Linked DNA regions of Homo sapiens: all the other regions are linked to region 1. Evidence: fine-mapped expression QTL. A gene starts in region 1. Each other region holds a variant in brackets. All regions are shown on one strand. Distances are between the middles of the regions. Region 1 holds the start of PRAG1 (PEAK1 related, kinase-activating pseudokinase 1). Region 2 overlaps PRAG1 (PEAK1 related, kinase-activating pseudokinase 1). Region 3 has its middle 74 kb from the start of PRAG1. Region 4 overlaps PRAG1 (PEAK1 related, kinase-activating pseudokinase 1).

Region 1 (5,172 bases):
GGCAGATAACTTGAGGTCAGGAGTTCAAGACCAGCCTGGCCCAACATGGTGAAATGCTGTCTCTACTAAAAATAGAAAAATTAGCAGGGCATGGTGGTGGCCGCCTGCAATCCCAGCTACTCAGGAGGCTGAGGCAGGAGAATGGCTTGAACCCGGGGAGTGGAGGCTGCAGTGAGACAAGATCTTGCCACTTCACTCCAGCCTGATTGAAAGATGAAACTCCATCCCAGGAAAAAAAAAAAAAAGAATAAGTTAGGTAAAGAGAAGAAAATAAAGTGCAAAAGTAAGTGCTTCTTTTATGTGTTCAGCACAGCCTTTATTCTGTGAGGTCAATGTCTCTCTTACAGAGGAAAGAAGTGAAACATTTAGCCTGAATCCTGAGAACCAGGAACTTCTCAAACATCTTAGTTTGCCCTCTCCCAGTGTAAATGAATTGCACACTTTCTGAAGTCACTTTTGTATTTCTCCATTGCAGACCACTTTGTACCTACCTGTTTAATCAACATCTTCCCCTCTTGAGTCTTGGTAGGGTCTGGATCTTTCAGCTCTGTTGGATGCTCATGAAGTGTAACCAAAGTTTCCCTTCCTTTTTTTTTTTTTTTTTTTTTTGAGACAGGGTCTTGCTCTGATACCCAAGCTGGAGTGTAGTGGTGCGATCTCAGCTCACTGCAACCTCCACCTCCCTGGCTCATGTGAGTCTCCTGCCTCAGCCTCCTGAGTAGCCGGGATTACAGGCGCCCACCACCACACTCGACTAATTTTTGTATTTTTAGTAGAGATGAGGTTATACCACATTGCCCAGGCTGTTCTTGAACTCCTGGCCTCAGGTGATCTGCCAGCCTCGGCCTCCCAAAATGCTGGGATTACAGGTGTGAGCCACCGCGCACGGCCAGTATTTGTTCAAATGATTTCTCTCCACTTAGGGGAGAGAGAAAAATAGGGCTGGACTACCTGCACTTGGCAAGGGCAGAGTGGCAGAGTAGACTTGCCTACCAGCGAAGCCAGACAGCCTTTGGTTCCAATCTTAGTACTACCACTTTTCAGCTGAGGAACCCCAGCAAATTGTGAGGCCCCCGAGCCTCAGTTTTCTTATCTGTAGAATGGGGATAATGATGCTCTCCTCATAGGATTGCTTAGCGCTGGGTAGGTCCTTAAGGAATGTCCATTGCACTCCCATCCCTCTACAGCTTCCCCCAGATTCTGTCCTCTTAGGAGGCATGGGTGTCACTGGAACATGAGGAAGAATTCCCTGGATCCTTTTTTCCCTTTCCTCACACAGAAGCCAAACCTCAAATACACATCTTCCCTCTCTGTCCACACCCACAGCAGCAAAGAGGAGAGCCAGGGATCTGGGGGTGGGGGTGGGGGCCCATCTTCCTCCTCTCAGTGGGTGGGGGCTCGCAGGCTGACTGGCAGAGGACCTTCACTGGAGTCAAAATAAACTGCCTTCCTGGGGAGGGGATAGAGGGCGAGAGAAGCCGCAGGTATTGTTTTGTGGGGGAGGGGGGTCCTCTTCCTATTCCATTTCACTGAATTCTTCCCACCCGGCATGGCCCTGGGAGGTGACCATAGCCCTGGCTCCCCGAGTAAACACCCAGGTCAAGCTACAGGACTGACTGGGTCTTAAGCTATTATACTCCCAGTGAAAAGATTTTTTTAGCCCGAGGACTATCTCGAACTCGTTCTATCTCAGTGAATGACTCACTGGAAACGGTGTAAACACAGGTGTATTACTGGCCTGCGGAAGACTTGGATGTCCCAGCATGGTAGAAGGCCAGGTCCCTGCAGTGCAACGCTTGCATTCTACATCCAGAAAACTAAAGTTCAAAGAGGTTAAGCAATTTGCCAGAATCCTGCAGTCCAGGGACTGAGCGGAACCTGGAATCCGCCACCGGGACTTCCAGCCCTGCTCCCTCCGGCGCCACCCTCTTCCCAGAGGTAGGGAGAGCTGAGGCTCGCTGTGCTCACGTGGCTTTCAGAGCCCGCCTCGGACCCTGACCTGTATTCCACTCCCGACCCCACACTTCCTCGTTTCCCCTTCCTTCTCCCTCTCTTCCCAGGGTCCCGCAGGGCCGGCTGGATGAAGTGATGCCGGGCACCTATACACGCATGATGGCAAAAGGAGGATTGCAACGCCAGAGCTCGCCCCTCCAGAGCTGTGCAGGGTCCCCACCGAGGAGGGGGTGCAAACGGGTGCTGGGCTCGGGGGTCAGCCCGCGCCAAGTCTGGGGCTGGGGGCGGAGCCTGCCGGTCCGGGGCGGGAGGGTGGGCAAGAGAGGGAGTCCCGGGGCCTGGAGACTTTGGAGGAGTCGGGGCCCTGGGGGTAGGAGACCGCCGGGTGGGAGCGGCAGGCGCAAGCCGGGCGGCGGGGCGCGCGGGCCAGGCGGGGCCGGGCGGCGGCAGGGACTGCGGAGGTGCGGCGTGAGCTGGGGCGGGCGGCGTCACCGGAGGCGGAGGGGGCGGAGCCGCGCTCACAGCTGCCACCCGGCCGCCGGGCCCAGGCAGAAGCCACCCGCCCGCGGCCGGGCACGCACCGCGCGCAGACCTTCTGCGAACAATGCTCCGGCCGGGCGGCTGGCGGCTCGGAGACCGACGGAGGGGCCGGGGGAGCGCAGCCCAGAGGTGAGCCCGCGACGCGCTCTCCAAATTCGGCCTCTTTTTGTCTGGCGAGCGTGGTCGCAGAGGGGAGCTTTGGAGGGGCGCTGCGATCGCCGAGCGGGCTACCCCCGGGGTGACAGGCGACCGCTCGGGAAGTGGGCAGTGCCGGGGCCGCGTGAGCCCCGGGTGGTGCCCGAGGTGCAGGGAGGCGCCCGGCCGGGAGGACCGAGGAGCTGGAGGGTGTTTTTGATTCATTCGAGAATCGCGCTCTTTAAAACGGGGAAACTTTCCTACGAGTTCCAGGAGGGAGGACCGACTGTTAGGATGGTTTCTCTGGTCTTGCTGCTCTGTCTGCGGCCGGAGGCTGAAGCGCTTTGAGGACTGCTTTCCACCGCTAGAGTATTGTCAAGGGGGAGAGACGGAAGGCCGCCTGGCTGCTGGGACCAGGACCCGGGGGGATGGTTTGGGGGTGCAGGGTATGCAGCAGCGGGGCTCCAGAGGCAACGAGATGATGCCCTTTTCCCCGAGCCCTGGCTGAGCCCTCTGAAACGCATGCTGTGAGCACGTTATTAACCTTTGCTGGTATCCGGGGACACACACACTTAGAACATAGAATCCTCTGCTGGGCATGGAGGCGGCCGGGCATTCGCAGCGGAGAGCGCCAGCTCACGGTGTGTGCGTTTCTCTCAGGTAAGCTCTCCCTGCACATGGTTTTGCAGAGCCGATAGCAAAGCCCAATGGTCTAGGGGCGAGGAGTTTTGGCGATGCATTCAGTGCGGAGTCAGGCTCAGAAGGCTTTCCTGATCACTGGCCTGAACTATTCTTAACAACTCCTCTCCCCTTCCCTTTCTGAGAAGAAAATTTGACAGAAAGCCCTAGGGAATTCCGCAGTTATTTTTCTCTCCTGAGGTCTGGTTGGTTTCGACTGTAGTGGGTGCAAAACCACATTCCTCCCTCTGAGATTTTCTTTCCTCCAGCACTGGAGGAAGAAAAAAGAAAAGGAAAAGTTGGGTGAATATCGTAATTTACCCTCTGCGTGAGTAGGGAGGCAGGGGGCTAGTGGGTGGTAAAGTTGTCACTTTCTCCTTTCTGCCTGGTCAGCCCTGGCCAGTGGAGTGTGCTGAAGTTCAGACACTTTCCACACATATTTCTTTCCTTTTACTGGCGTTGCATTAATTTAACTGTAACATACAGAAAAAAATTTTAGGTGAATGTTTTCTGCAATTCTGTCACTTCAGAATAAGGCATAAGCAACTTCTGATGTAAGTCTGAGGGGGTATTTTGGGCCAAAATATTTAATCTTAAAGATCTGGCCACCTTGATTCTTCAGATTCTTTTTTGAAATGGGGTGGGAGTGTATCTGACAGCTTCAGTCTTGCAAACTGTAGCCACAAATCTAGTGCAGAAGTTTGCAGAGGCAAAGACATTTTTTTCATGACTTGGATCAGAAAGAATGCTGAGCTCTTTTTTCTAATCTGACACTGCAGCCTCCTACTGAAATGGGGAGGATTTGCATAATTCTGGGGGCTGCCTCCCCTCAGAAGTAAGGAATGTGGGCTGCGAAGTGCCTTCCCCATGCTGTGGAGAGCTGGCACTGCTGCACCAGGCAAGGCGAGGCAAGGCTTTGTGGGTGCCACTTGTGTTTCTCACCATCTTTTACTTAAAACAAATAGGAGATAATTCCAGGCACAGAAGTGCAACGGGAAAAGAGGTTTTTTTTTTTTTTTTTTTTTTTTGGCTGCATGCGGTGGTAAATTCTGTTTGCTGCGACTGAGAAACCAGTTTTAACAGGATGCAGTGAGTCAATGACAGTGGGAAGCCCAGGGCTTCATTTGTTCTTTTCTTATTCAATGACTTCCCTTTAAAAATCTTTGCGTCCATCCGTCCCTGGCAGTCGTGTGATGAAAGTTGCCTCTCTAAACATCCAAGGATTTCTGAGCTGAGAATGGGAGCAAAGAGTGCTCGTAAACTGATGAGACATTCTCAAGGAAACTTCCCCCACGCTAGCAATCCAGATCCTTCCACACTCCCTTTGCACAGGGCTGTGCAAAGGTTGGGGAATCTTAGAAAGTAGGGCCTCTGATACCAATGTCACCCCTTCCGCAAAAACAAGTTTGTGTTCTTACTTGCCTGTTGAGGAGGCAATAAGTCGCCAAGCAGAACTGCTGCTTTGTGAATCTGTGATAGACCCTGAGGAAGTGGTTGGGCACCCACCTCCTCAGATAGCCCAGTGTCAGGAGGAGCTGTGGGAACTTGCAGAGCCCACACAGAGCTGGTTTCCAAACTGTCTTCCTCCATCCCGCGGAGCAGGCATGGGAGCATCTGCCTGCAGTGGAGGTGGGCTGGACAGTGTCCTTTCTGTGGCCTAGAAGGTGTAGACAGTCTTCACCCATCAGCGTCCCAGGAAGGGACCTACTGCCTATTCCTGAAGGCTGGAATACTTCCTCTGCTTTTTCCCCCTCCCAAAACTTAGCAGCAAGGCTACAGTTCTCTGTGGCCTGAGATTATAAGAGAAAGACAAAACCTGGCTATTTCCTCCGCTTGTTGAAGCCCAGTGACCTCTTCTGGAGAACT
Region 2 (8,439 bases), 34 kb after region 1:
GTTTTGTATCAGTTTTGAAATCAGGAAGTGTGAGACCTCCAACTTTGTTCTTTTTCTAGATTGTTTTGGCTATTAGGATATGTTGAGGTTTTATATGAATTTTAGGATGTATCTTTTATTTCTGCAAAAAATGCCACTGAGAACCTCTAGGCCAGTCGTGGTGGTTCAAGCCTGAAATCCCAGCACTTTGGAAGGCTGAGATGGGCAAATTTATTGAACCCAGGAGTTCGAGCCCAGTCTGGGAAACATAATGAAACCTCATCTCTACAAAAAATACAAAAAAATTAGCTGGGCACAGTGGCACATGCCTGTAGTAACAGCTACTTGGGAGGCTGAGGCAGGAGGATCACTTGAACCCAAGAGGTCAAGGCTGTGGTGAGCCATGATTGCACCACTGCACTCCAGCCTAGGTGACAGAGTGAGACCCTGTCTCAAAACAAAACAAAAACCTCTATAGTTTTCATAATGATTTACATTTCCACCAAAAATGCACTAGTGTTCTCTTTTCTTCACACCCTCACCCACATTTGTTGTCTTTCATATTGATAACAGCCATCTTAATGAGTGCTAGGTGATATCTCACAGTGGTTTAAATTTGCATTTCCCTGATTAGTGATGTTGAACACCTTTTCATTTATCTGTTGGTGAGTTTTATGTCTTCAGATAAATGTCTGTTCAGATCCTTTGCCCATATTTTAGTATGGTTACTTATTGCTCTGCTATTGAGTTGTAAGAATTCTTCATAAGTTTTGGACATTAACGTCTTATCAGACACGTGGTTTGCAAACATTTTTTCCCAGTTCCTAAGTTGCCTTTTCATTTTGTTGATTGTTTCCTTTGCTGTGCAGAAGGTTTTCTGTTTGATGTAGTTCCATTTATTTATTTTTGCTTTTGTAGTCTGAGCTTTTGGTGCGATATCCAAAAAATCATTTCCAAGGCCAATATCAAATAGATTTTCCTATGTTCTTTTCTCATAGTTTTATGACTTCAGGTCCTACATTTAGGCCTTCTATCCATTTTGAGTTTATGTTTGTGTATGATATAAGATAAGGGTTCAGTTTCATTCTGTTTCATGTGGAGATACAGTTTTCCCAGCACCATTTATTAAAGAGACTATCTTTTCTATGGTGCCCTTTTGATGCTCTTGTCAAAAACTAGTTGACCATGTATGTCTGGATCAATTTCTGAGCTCTGTATTCTGTTTTATTGCTCTATGCTTCTGGTTTTATGCCACTACCATATTCTTTTCTGATTACTATAGCTTTGTAATATAATTTAAAATCGGGACGTATGAAGGCTCCAAATTCATCTTTCCTTTTTTCTTTCTCAATATTGCTTTGACTATTTGAAGGGTTTTTTTTGTCATTCCATATGAATTTTAGGATTGTTTTTTCTATTTCTGTGAACAATGCCTTTGGAATTTTGATAGAGATTGCATTAAATCTGTATATCACTTTTGGTGGTGTGGACATTTCAACAATATTAATTCTTCTGATCCATGAACATGGTATATATTTGCATTTAATTATGTCCTCTTCAATTTCTTGCATTTAATGTTTTATAGTTTTCAGTATACATATCTTTCACCTCATTGTTTAAATTTATTCCTAATTTTTTATGCCATTGTAAGTTGGATTGTTTTCTTGATTTTTGTTTTTTCACCTGGATTGTTTTTTTGTATGTGGAAATGCTACTGGTTTTTGTGTGTAGATCTTCTATCCTGCAACTTTACCGAATTCATTTTAGTTCTTTTTTTGGTGGAATTCTTGGGATTTTCCACATACAAGATTATGTCATCTGTAAATACGGATAATTTTACTTCTTCCTTTTTTTGTTTGGATGCCTTTTATTTCTTTTTCTTGTCTGATTGCCCTTGCTAGTACCTCCAGTACAATGATGAATATGAAGTGGCAGAAGTGGATTTATTTGCCTACTACTGGATCTTAATGGAAAAACATTTAGTTGTTCCCCATTGATTATGATATTAGCTGTGAGTTTTTCATAAATGGCCTTTATTATGTTGAGGAACTTTTCTTTTATACCCAAGCTGTTAAGAGTTTTTATCAAGAAAGGATGCTGTACCTTGTCAAATGCTTTTTCTATGTCAATTTAGATGTGGTTTCTATCTTTCATTCTGTTAATGTGACATATTACAATGATTTATTTGTATATGCCAAACCAGCCTTGCATGCCAAGGATAAATCCCACTGGTCACATTACGTAATCTTTTGAATGTATTGTTGAATTCAGTCTGCAATACTTTATTGAGAATTGAATTAATATTCATCAGCAATATTGGCCTGTACTTTTTCTTTTCTTGTGGTATCTTTGTCAAGCTTCAGTATCAAGGTGATGCTGGCCTCATAAAAAGTTTTTGGAAGTATTCCCTCTAGCTTTATTATTATTTTTTTTTTTTGGAAGAATTTAAGAAGTATTGGTAATAATTGTTCTTTGAATGTTTGGCAGAATTCAGCTGTGAAGCCATCTGGTCCTGGGGTTTTCTTCGTTGGAACGTTTTTAATTACTTCTTCAATCTCTTTATTTGTTACTGGTCTGTTCAAGCTTTTTATTTCTTCCTGATTCAATATTGAATCTAGGAATTTATCCATTTTCTCTCTGTCATCCAATTTGTTGGCATATAATTGTTCATAATAGTCCCTTATGATCATTTTTATTTCTGAGACATCTGTTACAATGTCCCCACTTTCATTTCTGATTTTATTTGAGTCTTCTTTCCTTATTTTCTTAGTCTATCTAGGGGTTTGTTGATTTTGCTTGTTTTTTTCAAAGAACCAATTCTCAGTTCTATTGACTTTTTTTTTCCTTATGTGGCTTTTCTGTTCTTTATTTTATTTATTTTTGTTCTAATCTTTATTATTTCCTCCCTTGTGCAATGGGTGGTCTTCCTCTTCCTCTTCTACTACTACCACTACTACTACTACTACTTCTTTATCTTCTTCTTCTTCTTTTTCTTCATCTTCTTCTCTTTTGAAACAGGGCCTCACTCTGTCACTCAGGCTAGAGTGCAGTGGATCAATCATAGCTTACCGCAGACTCAAACTCCTAGGCTCAAACAGTCTTTCAGCCTTGGCCTCCCAAAGTACTGGGATTATGGGCATAAGCGCCACACGTGGTTTTGTCCTTTTTCTACTTCTTTGAGGTATATAATGTTATACTATTTATTTGGGATCTTTCTTTTTTAATGAAGGCATTTATTGCTATAAAATTTCCTCTTAGAACTACTTTTTCTGCATCTTATACATTTTGATATATTGTATTTCTATTGTCATTTTTCTCAAGATAATTTTTTAATTTCTGTGATTTTTTTCTTTAACTACTGGTTGTTTTGGGAGCATGTTGTTTCATTATTACATATCTGTTAATTTTACAAAATTCCTCATATTATTGTGTTCTAATTTCACACTGTTGTGGTTGGAAACAATACTAGATATGATTTCAATTTTCCTGAATTTATAAGACTTGTTTTATGGCCCAACATGTGGTCTATCCTGGAAAAAGTTCCATGTGTGCTAGAGAAGAATGCTGCTGTTATATGGAAAGTTCTATATATGCTTTTTAGGTCCATTTGGTCTAAAGCTTAATTCCAGTTCAGTATTTATTAATTTTCTGTCTGGTTGATCTATCACATTGTTGAAAATGAGGTGTTGAAGTCTCCTACTATAATTATACTGCTATCTATTTCTTCTTTTATGTTCATTAATATTTGCTTTTTATATTTAGATACTTTAATGTTTGTACATATGTATTTACAATTGTTGTGTCCTCTTGATAAATCACCCCCTTTATTATTAAATGATCCCCTTCTTTGTCTCTTGTAACCATTTTTGACTTGGAGTCTATTTTATCTCATATAAGTATTGCCATCTCTGCTCTCTTTTGGTTATTATTTGCATGGAATATCTTCTTCCTTCCCTTCACCTTCAGCTTATGTATGCCCTTAAAGCTAAAATGGATTTTTTGTAAGCAAGTACAAAATCTTTATTCAAAGAAAAACTCAAGATATAAAACAAACATACAGGTATA[C/G]CAAATATAGTGTGTATACCTAGAAGTGAGATATTGGGAAAGTGGCAAATTAGAGTAGAGGTAGAGATGAAGGGAAAAACTAAAATAATGCAGACCAATGTAAAAATGTGTCATTAATTAGGCATATGGTCATCTCACTTCTCTGCACTTAAGAACTAACAGGAAGAGAAACTGTGAGTCATGGAGAAATAGAGGACTTACTTGAGAGAGATGAGTATGGTGACTAAGAAGATGAATAAAAGTGATGAATGCTTGGAACAGCTGATTTGGGTCAAGTACAAGCATTACCAGGGAGCCCTGAGAGGTAGTATGAATTAACTGTGGCCCCAACCTGCATAGTTGTGGACTTTTTCCTGGAGAAGCACTGGGCTGCCTGGTACAGGAATGAGGATGGAAAATGCTTGGGGATATCCAGAATGGGGAGGTCAACTGAGTCTGAAGACAGAGAGCTGGACCTGTTGAGATGCAGATAAGAGAGTGAAGAATTGATCAGGGAGTGTGGAGAGAACCTGTGATGGTGTCTGCTCCTTATTGGGCAAAAGGCTGCCCCAGCGTGAAGAATGGGGAAGTAGCTCATCCTAAGAGCTTTGGTCCAAATAACCTCTCAAGCTAGAAGGGTAGAAATGAAGTCTAGTATAAAATACACTGAAGCTGGTTCAACAAAGTGAATTTGAAATATTCACCAAATCAAGAAAATTAGGGTCTGAGAATTCTGAAAGCAAGGTCACCAAAACCATTAGTCTAGAAACACAAAGATTCTGGTCAGGCACAGGTGATCTTGGTGGGATTTCAATAGGATTCGATCAAGCCCAGAACTGCAGTGACTCCCAAGTGGGTAACAACTCACTAGTGTTTTTGTTTAACCAAACACCAGAGGTAGATGTGTGCTGGGGGATGAGGAGATGGTGTGAAGGGAGAAAGGAAAGTTCTAGGAGGCTAAGGGTACTCATGGGAGATTCTTTTTTGCAAGGGGAAGGCAGGCTGATGTAATAAAATAGGTTGTTCTCTTTCTAGATCTTTATATACTGAAAGCGAAGTGATAGAGCTAAGCAACCTGATTAGCTGAGGAATATGTCACCTCCTGGATCTGGGGCTATACTATAAATTATCTAGTTCTTGAACACACAAATTCAAAATGAGGTCTGGTCAATGGACAAATCAACTCTTTCTCATGATTTTAGAATAATGCATGTCCTCAAAGCATCATTCTATTTATCTTTCCTTGCAGATCTTTTAAATGTTGTAGTAAGAGTAGAGACATCAAAGTAGGGTGAACCTCTAGACTATCTGAAGATTTCTGCTTCTGTCGATAGCAAAAAGAATTACTCAGTCATATGGTTTGGATCTGTGTCCCCACCTAAATCTCATGTTGAATTATAATCCCGAATATTGGAGATGGGGTCTGGTGGGAGGTGATTCGACCATGGGAGCGAATTTCCCCCTTTGGTGCTGTTCTCATGATAGGGTTCTCATGAGATATGGTTGTTCAAAAGAGTGTGTGGCACCTCCCTCACTCTCTTCCTCCTACTCTTGCCATGTGAAGTGCTGACTCCCCATTTGCCTTCTGCCATGTTTTTAAATTTCATGAGGCCTACCCAGAAGCCCACCATACGCCAACATCTTGCTTCCTGCACAGCCTGTGGAACCATGAGGCAATTAAACCTCTTTTCTTTATACATTACCCAGTCCCAGGTATTTCTTTATAGCAATAGAGAACTAACTAATACACTCAGTATACTGGAGACTGCAGAAGTCCTCTGTTTGCCTGTTTATCCATCCATTGATCTATTCATCCATCCATCCATGCACCCATCCATCCATCCATCCATCCATCCATCCATCCATCCATCCATCCATTTAACGAGCACTTTCTATGTACATGGTGCTGTTTTGAGCAGTTTATAAATAATAACTCATTGAATCTTTCTAATAACTGCATGAGGTATGTATTGTCATTATCCACATTTTATAGATGGGAAGCTGAAACAGAGAGAGATTAAGGGCCTTTTCCAAAACACACAGCCAGTAAGCATTGAGTCAGGACCCGAACCCAGGCCGTGAAGCACCAGTGTTCATGCTCTTAACCACCACATCATTGGCCATCCTTGGTGACTCTGAAATCCGTCTAGGAAGTTATTCAACTGCTAGCATCATTGTTCTTCCCAGTAGCTCCTGAGGGCCCTGGGATACTGTGCTTGCCTATAGGCAAGGCAGCTGGTAGGAGAGGCCCTTTTGTGGAATGCAGTTACTCTCTTGTTAGTTCCCACTTTTTCTCTTTTCATCTCCTTTTCTTCCCATCTGCTCCTCTTGTGTGAACAGATGTGAGTTTCCTCCTTGACTTTCCAGGCCATGAGTTGGAACACGTTGTTCTTAGGTGATCATTTTAGAGATGAAAGTGTAGTGTACAGGGGTGATGGAGCCAAGCTATGAGTTCTTCATCACTCTCTTACCTGCTCATCAGCAGCTCCATCTCCCTGTCTGCAGCCTCAGCTGAAACCTCCGCACCTGGATACCCCCAAACATCTGCCATCCTCACTCCTGCACCAGGCAGCCCAGCACTTCTTTGGAAAAGTCCACAACTGTGTAGGCTGGGGCCACAAATAAAAGACTTGCTTTTCTGAAATCTGAATTGTCATCTTTAAAAAAATGTTTCTATCTCTCATGCTAAAGTATATCTGTATATAATCAGGGTACACTTCCATCTGACCAATTTAAGAATTTTTATCCTTGACTGAAACCAACTAGTAACCGAAATGTGTGTGTGTGTGCATGTATGTGTGTTTGTGTGGTATGTGTGTGTGTGTGTGTGTGTGTGTGTGTGTATTTTCCTATCTTTTAATGTAACTATGAGTTTATCCTGTGTTAAATGGTTTCTACTGAATATGAAGTTAAAACAAAGGGCTTTTAAACTTGTAGAGCTCCAGAAGAGTCACTAGTGCATTAACTGAAAATGCAAATTAACAGGCCTGCACCATGGGGACCACAGAGGTCATCTGACCAAAGATGAAACTGATTTCCTATATTTATGCATCCTAATAAATCAGCGGGTGGAAAACATGCCCCCAGAGAAGATTGGCCCTATCAGTTTTTTCAGCTGGCATTTAGGCATTTGCAAAATAGCTCCCTTAGCATCTTCATCAAAAAGCTCCAACGATAAAAATAATAGAAACCGGCCGGGCGCGGTGGCTCAGGCCTGTAATCCCAGCACTTTGGGAGGCCGAGGCAGGTGGATCACGAGGTCAGGAGATCGAGACCATCCTGGCTAACACAGTGAAACCCCGTCTCTACTAAAAATATAAAAAAAATTAGCCTGGCGAGGTGGCGGGCGCCTGTAGTACCAGCTACTCAGGAGGCTGAGACAGGAGAATGGCGTGAACCCGGGAGGCAGATCTTGCAGTGAGGCGAGATGATGCCACTGCACTCCAGCCTGGGTGACAGAGCGAGACTCTGTCTCAAAAAATAAATAAATAAATAAATAAATAAATAGATAGATAGATAAATAATAGAAACCTCCCTAGCTTAGTTATCTGCCTTTCTCCTCCTATCTTCTGGATAAAAAAGCATTTAAAAACTACAAGATTTGTGAAAATTCAGAATATTTTAGAACAGGTGTATTTTGTACTAATGGCAAAAACCACAATTACTTTTGCACCAACCTAGTAGATATGAGAAAGTTTCAGCTATTGAATCTGGTATTCTTGATGGTTATCAGTTGCTCTGTGTTCCTGCCTTTTGCAAGTTTTGCTGGGCAAGTGTAATTCTTTCTTAAAGGAAACATTTATTCTCCCAGATGCCACTGTGGCCTCAAAACAGAGGCAGATAAACTTAATCAAGAACTGTTTAATAATGACTCTGTGTTCCAGCACGTCTCAACTGTGACACAGCTCCTCAAACCATTTATAATTTTGGAACGGTTACAAGCCTATTTCACATCAAACAATTAGAAAAATGTAACCAGGATTATAACCAAATTCTCAGTGATGTGATTCAGACTCAGTGCAGTGTCAGTTACAGAAGGATGAGAAGGGTCAGAGAAGACTGAAATAGTTTGGGAGGAATTTGTAGGTAAGTGAAACTGATGCTGGGTTTTGAGGATGGAGATGGTTTGAAAGGGAGAGAGGAGCATTTCCTCTGAGCCACAGTTAGGAGAAGAGAAGGAGCACTTTGGTGCTTTGGAGACAATCAGAGGACAAAGACGAGCCTGCTTGGAACAGAGGATTTAGGAGGGGAAATAGCAGTATGTTAACCAAAATGATGATACTTTGTTTTCTAAACCAGAAGCCTAGGAATGTGTTGGAATGTGTACAATGGAATGAATAGACTATGGGGAATATTTGAAATTGAGATTGTCAAAGAAAATTTGAGATGTGTGTTTCTGTCACTACAGAGGACCTG
Region 3 (5,000 bases), 74 kb after region 1:
AGTCATGTGGCTGTAAATATTAGGTTTAGCAAACAACTTCATTCGCACTAAATTCAGAGGTTCAATATAACTGGTTTTTTGTTACTTCAAAATACACCTAGGCTGCATGGCTTTGTCTCACAGAAGACTCTAGCATGATATCCATTATGCCCAGAAACGATAGTTTGTTCTGCAGGACTGAGGTTCAGAAATAATCAGGGACTTTTGTACGAGGACAGTTGCAGGATCTGGCAATTTAATACTCCTGTTATCAGTGAGTTCATCTCCCATTTTTCTTGGCTCTAAACCCAACTACTGGTATTTAAATCTCCAGTTTTTCTTCTCTCCCACTGAGTCAAGTCACCCCCATTATGTTTTCCACATACGTAATTTTTGTTGTTTGTAAGCCATTCTCATTTTCATGCCAAGATGTGGAATCGTTTTTCTTCTAATTTTTTTAATGTAGGCGTTATAAAGCCTCATATCTAAATAGTTATATCCTTGCCAGAAGCCAGATAAGCGCTTTAGGGATTATTTATTTATCATAACATATGGCTCAGATCTGAAAAGACTGGTTTTGGGGAGCTGTAGTTACCACTTTATATAACACTTCATGGTTTCCAAGAGCTTAGAGCTGAAAAAACTCTTTTGAGATGTACGCGTGTACATAAAATAATTATAAAGATTTTCTAAAAAGAAGACACATGTTACTTTAGTGAGTTCTAAATTTGCGCTTAAAATACAGTCAACAAATGAAGCAGCCCTTTTCTGCTCTGTTGAATATCTGAAAACCTTTGGAGATCTAAAGATTAGCTTACCAAATCCCACTAAAAATAGTAGATTTGTAACATAAAACCAACTTGCCATTTTTAAGAGATGGTGATGTGAATGGAATTTATTTATTAGAAATCAAAGTTTAACCCAGCTGATGTCATTGTTGAAAAAAAAAAAAAAAGCAAGAATAAAATGGTTGGAACAAGTACCATGGGATGATTGTCTTGACAATTACCCTTTCTTTCTTTTTTCCAGTGCTAATTAATGCAGGCAATGGGGCAACCTCCCTGTAAAAGATATCCTAGGAGGAGGAACTGCACCCCGGGAAAGTGGTCAGGAGGTAACCCGATGGACTCTAGGGTTCCAGAAAAAGAGTCCAAATTCACTCAAAAGTGATATTGTTGGTTTAGGGGACTCTGGGGTTGGGCCAGAACATCTGTGACCAATGTGGATCCTTACCAGATCCAGGATACTCAGTCTTGTCTGATCTGGATCTTTTCTCCCAGAAGTTGACTACATCCATGCCAAGCTTATGGAACTGGGGAAGGAAGGTCAAGTTCACTCGAGATTTTTCTGCGTGTCAACAGGCTGACTTTGTATTGCATTATCCCTGGGGAGTTTGAACATAGACATTGATCACATATTCTAAATGTTAGACTCAAATATTTCCAGCTCCTATGCCAGAGGTGATTACAGCTATTTCCTAAAAAAATACTGCCCTAGACACCAGATGGGCTGAGATTGTGAAGATGTTTGTGCACTGTAACAAACTTAAAGGTTACTCTGCAGACTTCTGCTTTACTGCCTTATTAGGGCAAAGCAGACATGGAGACAGGTTGAGGGAATTGAATGTGGAGGTCTAAGGAGAGAAGACAAGGCGGGAATTGAGAACACAAGATTCGAAGACAAACTACCTGCTCTATTCGGTTGGTGCAAAAGTTATTGTGGCCTTTGCCATTACTTTTTAATTACTTTTAATGCAAAAACAGCAATAGCCTTTGCACCAATTTAATATCATATGCATGGATCCAGCCCCGGTGACTTTCCACAATCCTGAAAAGGTAATCAGGCCTTCACTCCTTTACTAGGATTACACAGACATTTGTATGTCCATTATTTTCTCAAAGATTTCCAGGAATGA[G/A]GAAGCTGTAACCATTTCCTCTTTTCTAGATTGTGTAGAGTTCAATTTCAGAACTTACAGCAGATTCTGTAAAAAGTCAGAAAGACTTTAACAACTGAGCCTCTTATTTAAACCCTTTATTTACTGGCCATTCCCACCACCACAATGACATAAGCAAGTTCTGGTTTTCCTAAAAGAGAAGCGGATTTTCTTTTTCCTACCCCTCAGCTTTGTTGGTTTTATTTATTTGAGTAGGCAAGCCCTAACATGGCACTCAAAGATAAAACTATCCAACAGGTGTACTCAGGGCTGGGCACAGTGGCTCACGCCTGTAACAGCATTTTGGAAGGCCAAAGCTATAATCCCAACACTTTGGGAGGCCAAGAATTGCTTGACGTTGGAGACCAGCCCTGGGCAATTTTGGGAGACTCTGTCTCTACAAAAAAATAAAAAACAAAAAAATTAGCCAGGCATGGTGGCACACACCTGTAGTCCTAGCTACTCACCTCCAGTGAGGTGAGAGGATCCCTGGATCCCGAACGATCAAAGCTGCAGTGAGCTAGGATGGTGCTACTGTACTCCAGCTTGGGCAACAGAGAGACAGAGAAAGGCTGTCTAAAAAAAAAGAAAAAAAAGGATGCTCAGAGCACTCAGAGCAGGTATCAATCCTCCATGCTTTCTCCTCCATGCCATTTTCCCCTCCTTTCCCCTGTGAGCACCCACCCGCTGTGGTCACCAAAGTCACCAGTTTCTGCTTGATCCTTCCTGTGTTTGTTCACAAATGAGCAGATACAAGTATATCTTTCTTTCTTACACGGAAGTTACCATGCCTGAGATGCCAGAGCGCTTTGCTTTCCTCACTTAGCAGTATGTCAACAAGAACTTTCTTTCTTTTCTTTTCTTTTTTTTTTTTTTTTTTATTTTTTTGACACAGAGTTTTGCTCTTCTTGCCCAGGCTGGAGTGCAATGGTGCAATCTCTGCTCACTGCAACCCCCTTCTCTGGGGTTCAAGCAATTGTCCTACCTCAGCCTCAGGGGTTCAAGCAATTATCCTGCCTCAGCCTCCCGAGTAGCTGGGATTACAGGCATGTGCCACCACACCCGGCTTATTTTGTATTTTTAGTAGAGATGGGGTTTCTCCATGTTGGTCAGGCTGGTCTCGAGCTCCCAACCTCGGGTGATCTGCCCGCCTCAGCCTCCCAAAGTGCTGGGATTACAGGTGTGAGCCACCGTGCCCAGCCGGAACTTTCTTAAAGAGAAGTGACTTGATTTCTCCCCTGAGTTAGGGAATTGACAGGTTTCATCACCTTTTCCCCAGGCATTAAAACGTCATTTGCACTGCTTGGAGAGCATTAACTCATCAAAAATTTAATGATCTCTTATTGGTATTGCTCCTTGTTTTTGGTCTTAGGACAACTCATTTAATTTCCATTGGGAGATACAGACTCTTTTTCTTCCCAGATGGAAGTCCTGAGGCTTGCTCTAAAATGCAGTTAACATTGGCAGCAGAGCCCTGAGTTAATGATAAAATTCACCCTCAGGCCCTTACTAGTCCCTGGAGTGACTCTGCTAGTCTTTGCACTTGCAACTCAACACTTCTTTGACAAGGTCTGCATTGGTCCCTTGTGGCAAACCCAACCTGGTGCCTATGGCCGGTTCTCCAAGGAAAATGCTTCAGGATGATCTTTCAGAGATAGTGTTTAAGGAAGAGCAAGGTTGTGCTACTCTGTGCCTTGGCTTTTCTGTGCCTCCAGTGTGGTCATTTCTTTCCATGACTTTAGAGAGCTGCAATGTAAGCAACAAGGACTCCACTCATTGAAATAGTTCATGGAACTTGGAGTCAGCTCTTGAACAATAGAAGCCTGATGCTGTTAGTCTTGGCTGAGTACAACATGAGTCATGTGCTGTTTCAAGTACCCAACTGAACATGGGTAGAAAGAAGGGGCTCCCTGGGTGACAGCCAGTGGAACAATTCCATGTGGAGATAGGGTTGGGGGAATGAGGTGGGGTGGGGGCTGCGCTCCCAGCACAGGAAGCAGACAAGGGTGCAGATCAGCCTGCCTTCCCGGTCAGTGCCGACTGTGCCCTGCAGCCGGGGTTGGCAGACACCTCCCAACTATGAGTCACACATTTGATCACAGCGTTCATCCTGCAGACAGGCCTCACTGGAACCAGCTGCTGGGCCCTGGCCTATTACCCAACTACCCCCTTTGTTTCATCTCTGAAAAGGCAACAGTTCATTGGAGAAAGAGTCAAAATGAAGAAAACCAAGGGCAATGTTAAATGGCTATGGCAGTCATTCATTCTTTTGGTAGGATATTCACTTCTATTTTTTTTTTTCTGAGATAGAGCCTTGCTCCATTGCCCAGATGGAGTGCAGTGGTATGATCATAGCTCACTGCAGCCTTGACTTCCTGGGCTCAAGTGATCCTCCGACTTCAGCCTTCCAAGTAGCTGGGGCTGCATGTTCATGCCACCATACCAGACTAATTTTTTGTAGACATGGGGGTCTCACTAAGTTGCCCAGGCTGGTCCAGAACTCCTGGTTTCAAGCCATCCTCCCACCTCCATCACCCAAAGTGCTGGGATTGGAGGTGTGAGCCACCACATCCAGCCCAAGATAACCATTTCTAAACAACACCTGTCACAGGTGCTCTCATAAAACGGCTTTTCACTGGGGCACAGGCCTCTGGTAGCAGTTTGATGGAGGGTTGGAATCATGACCTTCAGTTGGACAGGCCTGGTGAGGTCTGGAGTGTTTCCCTTGTGGTAACTCTAAAGTTATTGGGAAGGAAAGGAAATAATGCAGGAGACAGACAGTGAATATTCCTGCAGAGATGTTAAGAGCATAATACAAGCCCTGATAATGGCCACAGCTGGGCTCTGCGGGGTATCTGTGTTTCTGTAAATGGACACTACTCAGTTTAGCAAACGGAAAGTGGCATTACATCCGGGTCCTCTGTCTCATTTTCATTCACAGATCCCTGTGGGCTGAGCACTGAGGAAGGAATTCATTAATGCCGCTGACCTGTCATTCAAAGACTCCCTGGGTTGCTTGAACAGAAGATTTTAGTTTGGTGTCTGATGACAATGTTGGAAAACTATGAATGACAGAATAAGAGTGTCT
Region 4 (8,439 bases), 43 kb after region 1:
TGAGCTGGTGAATTCACAGCAGCCTGGAGAAGCATTCCGGCTGCCTCTGAAGCTGGCTCTTCACACCCAAGGGCTGCCCCTTGGGAACCTGAAGTCACTGTCCCAGCTAGTCACAAGGCCGGGGAGGCCTCACTGATGAGGACAGCACTACGGGCCTGAGTCTAGAATGGTAAGAGGTTCTCAGTCTTTGAGACAATTATTGGTTGTTTGAGTTTAAAACCAGTCTTTTCCTTTCTTCTTTGTAATTGAAAAAACATGTATAGACTGTTTAAAAACTTGTTCTTGCTTTCAGAACATTTATTTGATGCTCTAAAACTTTCCTTTAGATCTTCTCCAGATCATTACTAAACTTACTAGTGTATTTGACCAATCCCAAGAGCCAGCAGTGTGAATGCCTGCTGGGATTTAGAGAGCCAGTCTGAAACTGCATGCTGGCATATGTGGGTTTTCAAAGATTCCGCTCCAGTGGCAGAAAGCTCTCGGCCAAATGTATGTGAACCAAACAAAAGTCAGGGGCAGTGAGAATGAAAATCGGCCTCAATCACACTTTGAATATTGCTGTCATATGAGGATTTTAACAGCCATGGAAAGTGTGAGATTCACTCTCTGCTGCACACTGGGGCCCCGCATCCGTTAAGGATTGTGGGCATTCTGAAAGCTCTCATTCTGAAAGCTTCGGGGGTATTTTTAGATGAGGCTTGTTCCTACGAATGAGGAAGTCTAGCAGATGGCTCTTCCGGCTGGAGTCTTTTTTTCCAGCTTTCCACCAACATAGTATGGAGACCACTCTGGCAAGACCTCTCTCTAAGGACAATGGAGGGAAAAGCTATTCTCAAAACACTGGGCAGCAGCTGCAGGGCTGGGGCTCTGAGGACACCGTGCCACTGGCCTGTACCTTTCACCCTGCCTGCCTGGACTGTATGTAATCAACAGTGGGAGGCCGAAAGGAAGTTTGAGGTTAAGCACAAGATGTCTTTTATCACACTACGTGAGTGAAGACATCTGTGGAGACTGTACTCTCACTGTAGATGATAAGAATGTTATTCACCAAACAGACAGAAAAGACTGGAGTATGAGGTTTTTGTCCATGGAAGTATTTTGCAGATGGTTTGCACCAGTTTTGTGAAAGACAGATCAAATTATTATTAATGAAGGAAAAGTGCCTTTAAAAAAGGCTAAGTAGTCTTGTTATACCGCATTGAGTACACTCATTGTCTTTTGGCCTCACATCTGATAGAACAATCCTTTAGGGCTCAGAAAAGTCATCATTGCAATAGTAAGCCTTTTCCAGGGATTCTTAAGAAGTCTATTTTACACACAGTGTAAAGACCCAAACAACTTGATTGTAAGTCTGTGCTTTGATGGCAAGCTTCCTGTTCATTTTTTAATTTGATGTGGTTTTGCTCATGCCCTAATTAAAGTGGCAATTCTCAAAAAGTACAGATTGCACAGGTTTCCAGGGCGGATGCTTTTTAATGCAGTTCATAAGAAAGAGTCATCAGTCCTAAGGTTTTATTTTATTTTATTTTTGAGACAGAGTCTCGCTCTGTCACCCAGGCTGGAGTGCAGTGGTGCCATCTCAGCTCACTGCAACCTCCGCCTCCCGGGTTTGAGCGATTCTCCTGCCTTAGTCTCCTGAGTAGCTGGGACTACAGGCATACACCACCGTGCTTGGCTAATTTTTTGGTTTGTTTTTAGTGGAGGTGGGGTTTCACCATGTTGGCCAGGGTGGTCTCGAACTCCTGGCCTCAAGTGATCCACCCGCCTCTGCCTCCCAAAGTGCTGGGATTACAAGTGTGAGCCACTGTGCCCAGCCTTAAGATTTTGCTATTAAGCAAAAGGGTCACCTACGTGTGTTTTGGAAGACCTGTTATATCCCCATTTACAACTGAGCATTCCAAATGCCTACTGATTTCTGATTTTCTTTTTCTTTCTTTCTTTCTTTTTTTTTTTTTTTGTAGAGACAGGGTCTCACTATGTTGCTTAGGCTGGTATCAAACTTCCAGGCTCAAGTGATCCTCCCACCTCGGCCTCCTAAAGTGCTGGGATTACAGGCTTGGGCCACGATGCCTGGTCACCTGTTGGGTTTTAGCGACCTGGCAGGAAGCTGGATTTCTCAAGCTTTTCCAATAAAGAAGAAGCAGTTAGATCCCAAAAGCCATGAAAATTCCACTTGTGGCTTAGAAACTAAGATTTACCAAAGTCCACTTTGGGAGGCTCCCTTCCTCCCTAACACACACACACACACACACACACACACACACACACACACACACACCCTGCGGATAATTTATCCTGTAATCACAGGGATAGACTAATTTTGTCTGCATTCACTTGATGAGAGTTTTGACAACAGTGACTTCTGCTATAGTAACTATAGACAGAAGAATTAACTCCCAAGTCTTAAAAGAGTAGTTAGGTCTATGATGCAACTGTTTCCAGCCACAGGGGTGCTCTGTGGTGGAACCAACCCTCGTTGAGACTGCCTGTTCCCACTGAGGGGTCTGATGGAAATCCCACTGTGTTATTTTGTGTGTTGTTTGCCTTCCAGAGGCGCAACAACAGATCAACAGGAGCAGCCACCCCCTGCCTCATTCAGGCCCTGTGATTTGCTTTCTCACTAGAAATTTTCATTTTTAGTGTATCAAATATTCCAAGCATGCAGTGAAGTTCAGATAATAATTTAACTGACCTGCAGGTGTTCCCTAAGATTTTTCAAATATTAACATTTTGCCATTTGCTTTAGATTTTTTAAAAATAAAATGTTACTGCTACTGTGGAAGATCCCTCCCTATCCAATTCCCATTTCAACCTCCCATTGCTACCCAGAGCAATCACTGTCTTGAAGTTGATGAGTATCATTTACATTTTATTATGTGCTCCGTAAAACATGTATATATCCTTATATGTTTTTAATCTCTATACAAATGGCATCACATTTTACTTGAGCCTTTTGTAAATTACTTTTAATACTCAGCATTTTAAAATATTTCTTCATATTGCTACCCTAAAATCCAGTTCATTTTTTTCTACTGCTATAAAGTATCCCACCAAAAGACTATACCACAATGTTTTCATTCCTTTGTGGAAGCACCGTTCAACAGTTTAGAAGGTTATTTGCTATTTGTAACGTTGTGAACACCTTTCTCCACTTATAAGAGTTTCTCCAGCTCTGTACTGCACAGTATGGTAGCCACTAGCTTAAAATGTGGTTAGTCAGAATTGCAATGTGAGTAAATATAAAATGCATGCCACATTTTAAGGACTTAGGATGAAAAAAACATATGGAATATATCATTAATAATTGATATAGGTTATACTGATTACTGCTTAAAGTGACAATATTTTGAATACATTATGTTAAATAAAATGTATTACTATAATTATTTTTTCCCATTTATTTTACATTTTTTAAATGTGGTTACCAGAAAACTTAAAATTACATATATGGCTTGCATTATAATTCTA[T/C]TGGACAAGGCTGGTCAAGACCAGCCAGTAACTGATTGCCCACATGCAAGACATCTGTTTTTGTAAATAAAGCTTTATTAGAAAACATGCCACTAATTTCTATGGTGGCTTTCCAGCTACAACAGCAGAGTTCTGTAGTTGCAACAGAACCCTTATGGTCCACGAGCCTAAAATATTTACCATCTGGCCCTTTAAGGAAAAGTTTGTTGACTCATATTCTAGAGCAGTAATTTTTAACCTTTTTTAAAAACCATGACCCACAATAAGAAACATTAATATCATGACCCAACAAACACACATCTGAAACAAAAGTTTTACAAAACAAAGTTTCACAAATCCTTTCTATGTATTTTCATATTTTCTGTTCTGTTCTGTTTTGTTAAAATAAACTGCTGGTCAGTAAACTGCTAGTGACCCACTCAAGTGACTTAGCCATTCATTCATTACTAGTTATTTAAGTAACATTGCTCAAGGACATATACCCAAAAATGGAGTGACTGGATTATAGGAATGTGTGTATTTAACTTTACAAGATTCATCACATTGTTGTCCTGTGTGTGAGTTTACCAATCTACAGTCTCACAAACAGTGTGAGAGAGTTCCTATTTCCCTATATCTTTAACAAAATCTGACGTTGTCAGTCTGATCTGATGGGTATGAAATGAAATCTTGTTTTATTTACAATCTGATCATTCATAATTTTAATAATCTTTTCATGTGTTGAGTGGCCTTTCTTGTTTCATTTGTGAGTTGCCTGTTCATTTCCATTTTAAAAATGGGGTCATTTGTCTGTTTCTTAGATTTATAGGCACTCTTTTTTATTCTGCCTACCAGTACTTTATTAGTAATGCGGGTTGCAAAGATGTGAGTTGGCCACTCCAAGGTTTGTTTTTTTTCACTTTTTAATGGTGACTTTTATGTTATGAGGCAGAAGTTTTAAATTTTAAAGTAGTCAGATTTATCTTTTTCTTTATATTGCTATTTTTTAGCCCTTATTTTAAAAATTATTTCCTACCCCAAGTTCATAAAGTTTTCTCGTTATTTTTTCTGATGAATTTAAAATTTAATGGGTGTTTCTTTTCTGTTGAAAATTCGTGTTTCTACACGGTATGAGATATGGCTCTACTTTCTTTTTTTCTTCACATCATAAATAGCTGGTGTAAGTACCATGAATTGACTTGTTAATCCTCCAGTCTGTTTCTTGGGTCTGTGTCCTGGAAATGTTGGTCCTAGATTTATCAGAACCAGATCTTTACTGATCTCATTTATACAGCAACTGGTCCTTGATGGTTTTACAGGGTAGTTTTCGCAATCTTTCAGAGAACACATAATGTTTCTCTTATAAAAATTACCTGAGATAAGGCCGGGCGCGGTGGCTCACTCCTGTAATCCCAGTACTTTGGGAGGCCGAGGCGGGCAGATCACGAGGTCAGGGGGTCGAGACCATCCTGGCTAACACGGTGAAACCCCGTCTCTACTAAAAATACAAAAAAATTAGCGGGGCGTGGTGGTGGGCGCCTCCTGTAGTCCCAGCTACTCGGGAGGCTGAGGCAGGAGAATGGCGTGAACCCGGGAGGCGTAGCTTGCATGAGCCAAGATGGTGCCACTGCACTCCAGCCTGGGCAACAGAGCAAGACTCCATCTCAAAAAAAAAAAAAAAATTACATGAGATAATTGAAAAAGTGAAAGTTACTCAATTCATTTTATAATTCCTTTTCTTTTTTTTGAGACACAGTTTCACTCTGTCACCCAGGCTGGAGTGCAATGGCACCATCTCGGCTCACTGCAACCTCCGCCTCCTTGGTTCAAGCGATTCTACTGCCTCAGTCTCCCAAGTAGCTGGGATTACAGGCGCAGGCCACTATGCCTGGCTAATTTTTGTATGATTAGTAGAGATGGGGTTGGCCTGTTGGCCAGGCCGGTCTCGAACTCCCTACCTCAAGTGATCTGCCCGCCTTGACCTCCCAAAGTGCTGGGATTACAGGAGGGAGCCACCGTATCCGGCCGTCATTTTATAATTCTATTTTAACCTTTATATCCAAATTGGACAAGGACAGGACAAGAAAGAAAAATTATGGGCTAGCCTCTATTTGAATGTAAATGTAAAAATCTTAAACTAAATATGAGTAAAACTGAATCCAGCAATGTGTAGTAAAATAAGTTCATACAACATGTGCAAGGATGGCTTAATTAAGAAAAGCTATTAACATAACTCATCACATTCACAGAGTAAAGGAGAAACATGATATGATTTTTTTCCCATAGATGTAGAAAAGGCATTTAATAAACCCTAATAGCCAAAAATGATTTTGAAATACAAAACCTTAGAAAACTTGAAATAGAAATAAACATCCTTAGCCTGATAAAGTGCGTCTACTGAAATCTGTAGTAAATATACGCTTAGTATTGAAGGATCCCTTGTACTGCCTGTGTGTGGAGTTCCCTCTTTGTATCTGGCACCTGAGAATTGTTCTTTCTTTTAATCTTGGCTGTTACTTTAAGTAAGTATGTGTGTGTGTGTGCATATGTATATGAATATATATATATGCTCATACATACACATGTTTATGTATTTTTTGGTTTTGTCTATTTACATACATTTCATGAAGTTTGTGGAGTGGGAAGCTGTGCCAGCTCTGTAGCCATGGTGCTGTAGTTTCTCCCTTAGTGATTTTCTGGGCCTGAAGACCAAGAAACTCTAGAAACCACTTTGGAAGGGGCAAAGTAGGGGATAGCCACAGAGCTGGCTCTGGCTTCTCTCCTAGACTGAGGAGTTGTTATGCATGACTTCATATCCTGGCTTCCCTTGGAGAAAACTATTAGTGATAGATCTGATGTGGATATAAGAATATTGTATGAAACTGTCTGATTTTATTTTGCCAGGAGATTAGGCAAGGATCAGCTACTGCCATAGCATTTCCTAAGGAATTGATATTTCCAAGGTTCCCACAGCGATACTGAGATACAAAGATGAAGATTAGTCATAATGTTGCCTTCACTGTCACATTTTTTTTTTTGACAGATTTAACACAGTTTAAAAGTACGATTCTAAGGGTTGGGAGTGGGGAGAGGGACGTGTTTTCAAGGAGCACTTTTTGTGGTAGCGAACAAACTTTAAACCCTCCTGTTGATACACAGGGGATTCCCGTGACTATGAAAATTAAAACAGGGCCTGGCAATGTTGAACACAAAGAACAGCCAATAAATTCTTGACCGTAAGGTCATGCGCATTAAATAAGGCAGTTCTGATGCCAAATCAGTACTGTACTGTATATTTCCCATAGCAGATATTGAGATATGGATCTGCCGTAGAAGGAACAGGAATGTCATCAGGAAATATCAGTTCAGACAAATGTGGGTTTCCACCAGCAGGGGAAGAGCTGGACCTGGTGTGGATCTGTCTCCCTTCATGGTGAGAATGTCAGATCAGAAATGAATATTCATGTGGCCCTTGGAAAGTGGGAAGGAGAAATCAATAAGCTAAACACCCAACCTAATAATAGAACTGTTTTCTCCAATGTGAGTGTTTTTCTCTTGAAGTTGGTATTTCTGTCCTTGATCTGTTGGTGATGCTATTTAGAGATGCAACAAAAGATTTCACAGAAAAGCAAAAGGTTGGTTCCATTGTTCTGGAATAAGGGTTATGTCAATTTGTTTCTATCTAAGCATGTCACTGGAAGTCTGGTTCACATTTAAAGTTTTCCTTAATTCCAAGAAACAATCTAGACCCTTTGAAGCTTTGGCAAAAGAGTACCAGGTAAAAAAAGAAATCCCACTTGTAAAGGCCTAGTTTGCAATTCATTTGTCCTGGGATCTTGCAAAAACAACCCAATATCTGTATGTCTCTATACATTGGTGTGTATGATAATATCTTTATTTTTCTTTGTAGAGATTTTACACAGGATATAATAAGTGACACAACTGTTTTGGCAGATGGGGTCAGAATATGAAGGCAATTCCTTCCATGTAAGAATTTTGGTGCTTGTTTAAATTTAATAGACTCGCTTCTCCTAACCACACTCTGGAAGTCTCCTGTCATTCATGCACATAAGAACTCAGAAGAGAACCTCTACTGTCTCCCCAAAATCTTTTTTTTTTCTTTTAATAAACTTGCTGACATTGGCCAGGTTTCAAGAGCATGGTAAGTTCATGATCCATCAGCCTGGTTTCTGAATGGAAATCCAATGAGTTATTTGTATTGTTTGTTCCTACCTTTTCCAGGCACCTTCTAAAAATGAACAAGAGCAGCTCTGATTTGGAAAAAGTGAGCCAGGGCTCTGCAGAAAGCCTCAGCCCATCCTTCAGGGGTGTCCACGTCAGCTTCACCACCGGCTCCACGGACAGCCTGGCCTCAGACTCTAGGACCTGCAGCGATGGAGGTAACAAACTTGACATTGACGGAGAGGCTTAGATTCTCCTGGACCTTCAAGACCAGTCCTGCGTTGCTTGCGGGATTGGAAGGGCTGAGCAAGGACTACTGTCTTGGTCCTGCTTTCTCAATGAAGTAGACTCTTCCAGGGAGCTGTTGAAGTCAATTATCTACTGAATATATGGCAAGCCAGCCCATCCATATTGCCCTCTCCAAATTATAAGAGTGTGGACGTGGCAACATGGTGGGAGGAAGATGAGGTTGAAAGGCTCCTATTTCCTTGGGTAATGAGCCATCTGTGTACAGGCCTGCTTTTTACTTCTGTCCTCAGGATGGGTCCTAAACCACACATTCTCACTATCTCTTTCTCTCTCTCTCTCTCTCTCTCTTTTGCATCTACATGTGCATGTACCCACATGTACACACTTACTGGACACAGCAGATGTTTACATAATGTTTGCTGAATTAAGCATGAAGACTACATTAGGCCACCATCTAGCCTGCTTTTTGGATTAAGCTCTAAGGCCTATGGGTGGGTCTGTCCTCCACTGGGCATGTCCCTAAAAAGGAACTCTTGTTTTTCCATAGTTGTGGCCTGGATG

What was found. PIP is the estimated chance that this variant, and not a neighbour inherited with it, causes the effect.
Region 2: its variant is the best candidate, but not a certain one, in a credible set for the expression of PRAG1 in whole blood (TOPMed, PIP 0.69).
Region 3: its variant is the best candidate, but not a certain one, in a credible set for the expression of PRAG1 in whole blood (TOPMed, PIP 0.51).
Region 4: its variant is the best candidate, but not a certain one, in a credible set for the expression of PRAG1 in monocytes (BLUEPRINT, PIP 0.72).

What each region holds. Positions count from the first base shown.
Region 1 is chr8:8,383,771-8,388,942 of GRCh38, reverse strand. It overlaps PRAG1 (PEAK1 related, kinase-activating pseudokinase 1), which reads left to right and starts at 2,504. Exons shown (of 6, transcript NM_001080826.3): 1 at 2,504-2,622. RefSeq lists a silencer at 2,122-2,801.
Region 2 is chr8:8,348,358-8,356,796 of GRCh38, reverse strand. The region is part of intron 3 of PRAG1 (PEAK1 related, kinase-activating pseudokinase 1); the gene reads left to right. Among named protein-coding and RNA genes, the nearest start is that of PRAG1, 34 kb to the left of the region's middle. RefSeq lists an enhancer at 4,302-4,431. The variant C/G (reference allele first, on the strand shown) is at 4,045.
Region 3 is chr8:8,309,667-8,314,666 of GRCh38, reverse strand. No RefSeq gene overlaps it. Among named protein-coding and RNA genes, the nearest start is that of PRAG1, 74 kb to the left of the region's middle. The variant G/A (reference allele first, on the strand shown) is at 1,895.
Region 4 is chr8:8,338,886-8,347,324 of GRCh38, reverse strand. It overlaps PRAG1 (PEAK1 related, kinase-activating pseudokinase 1), which reads left to right. Exons shown (of 6, transcript NM_001080826.3): 4 at 7,690-7,847. Among named protein-coding and RNA genes, the nearest start is that of PRAG1, 43 kb to the left of the region's middle. The variant T/C (reference allele first, on the strand shown) is at 3,469.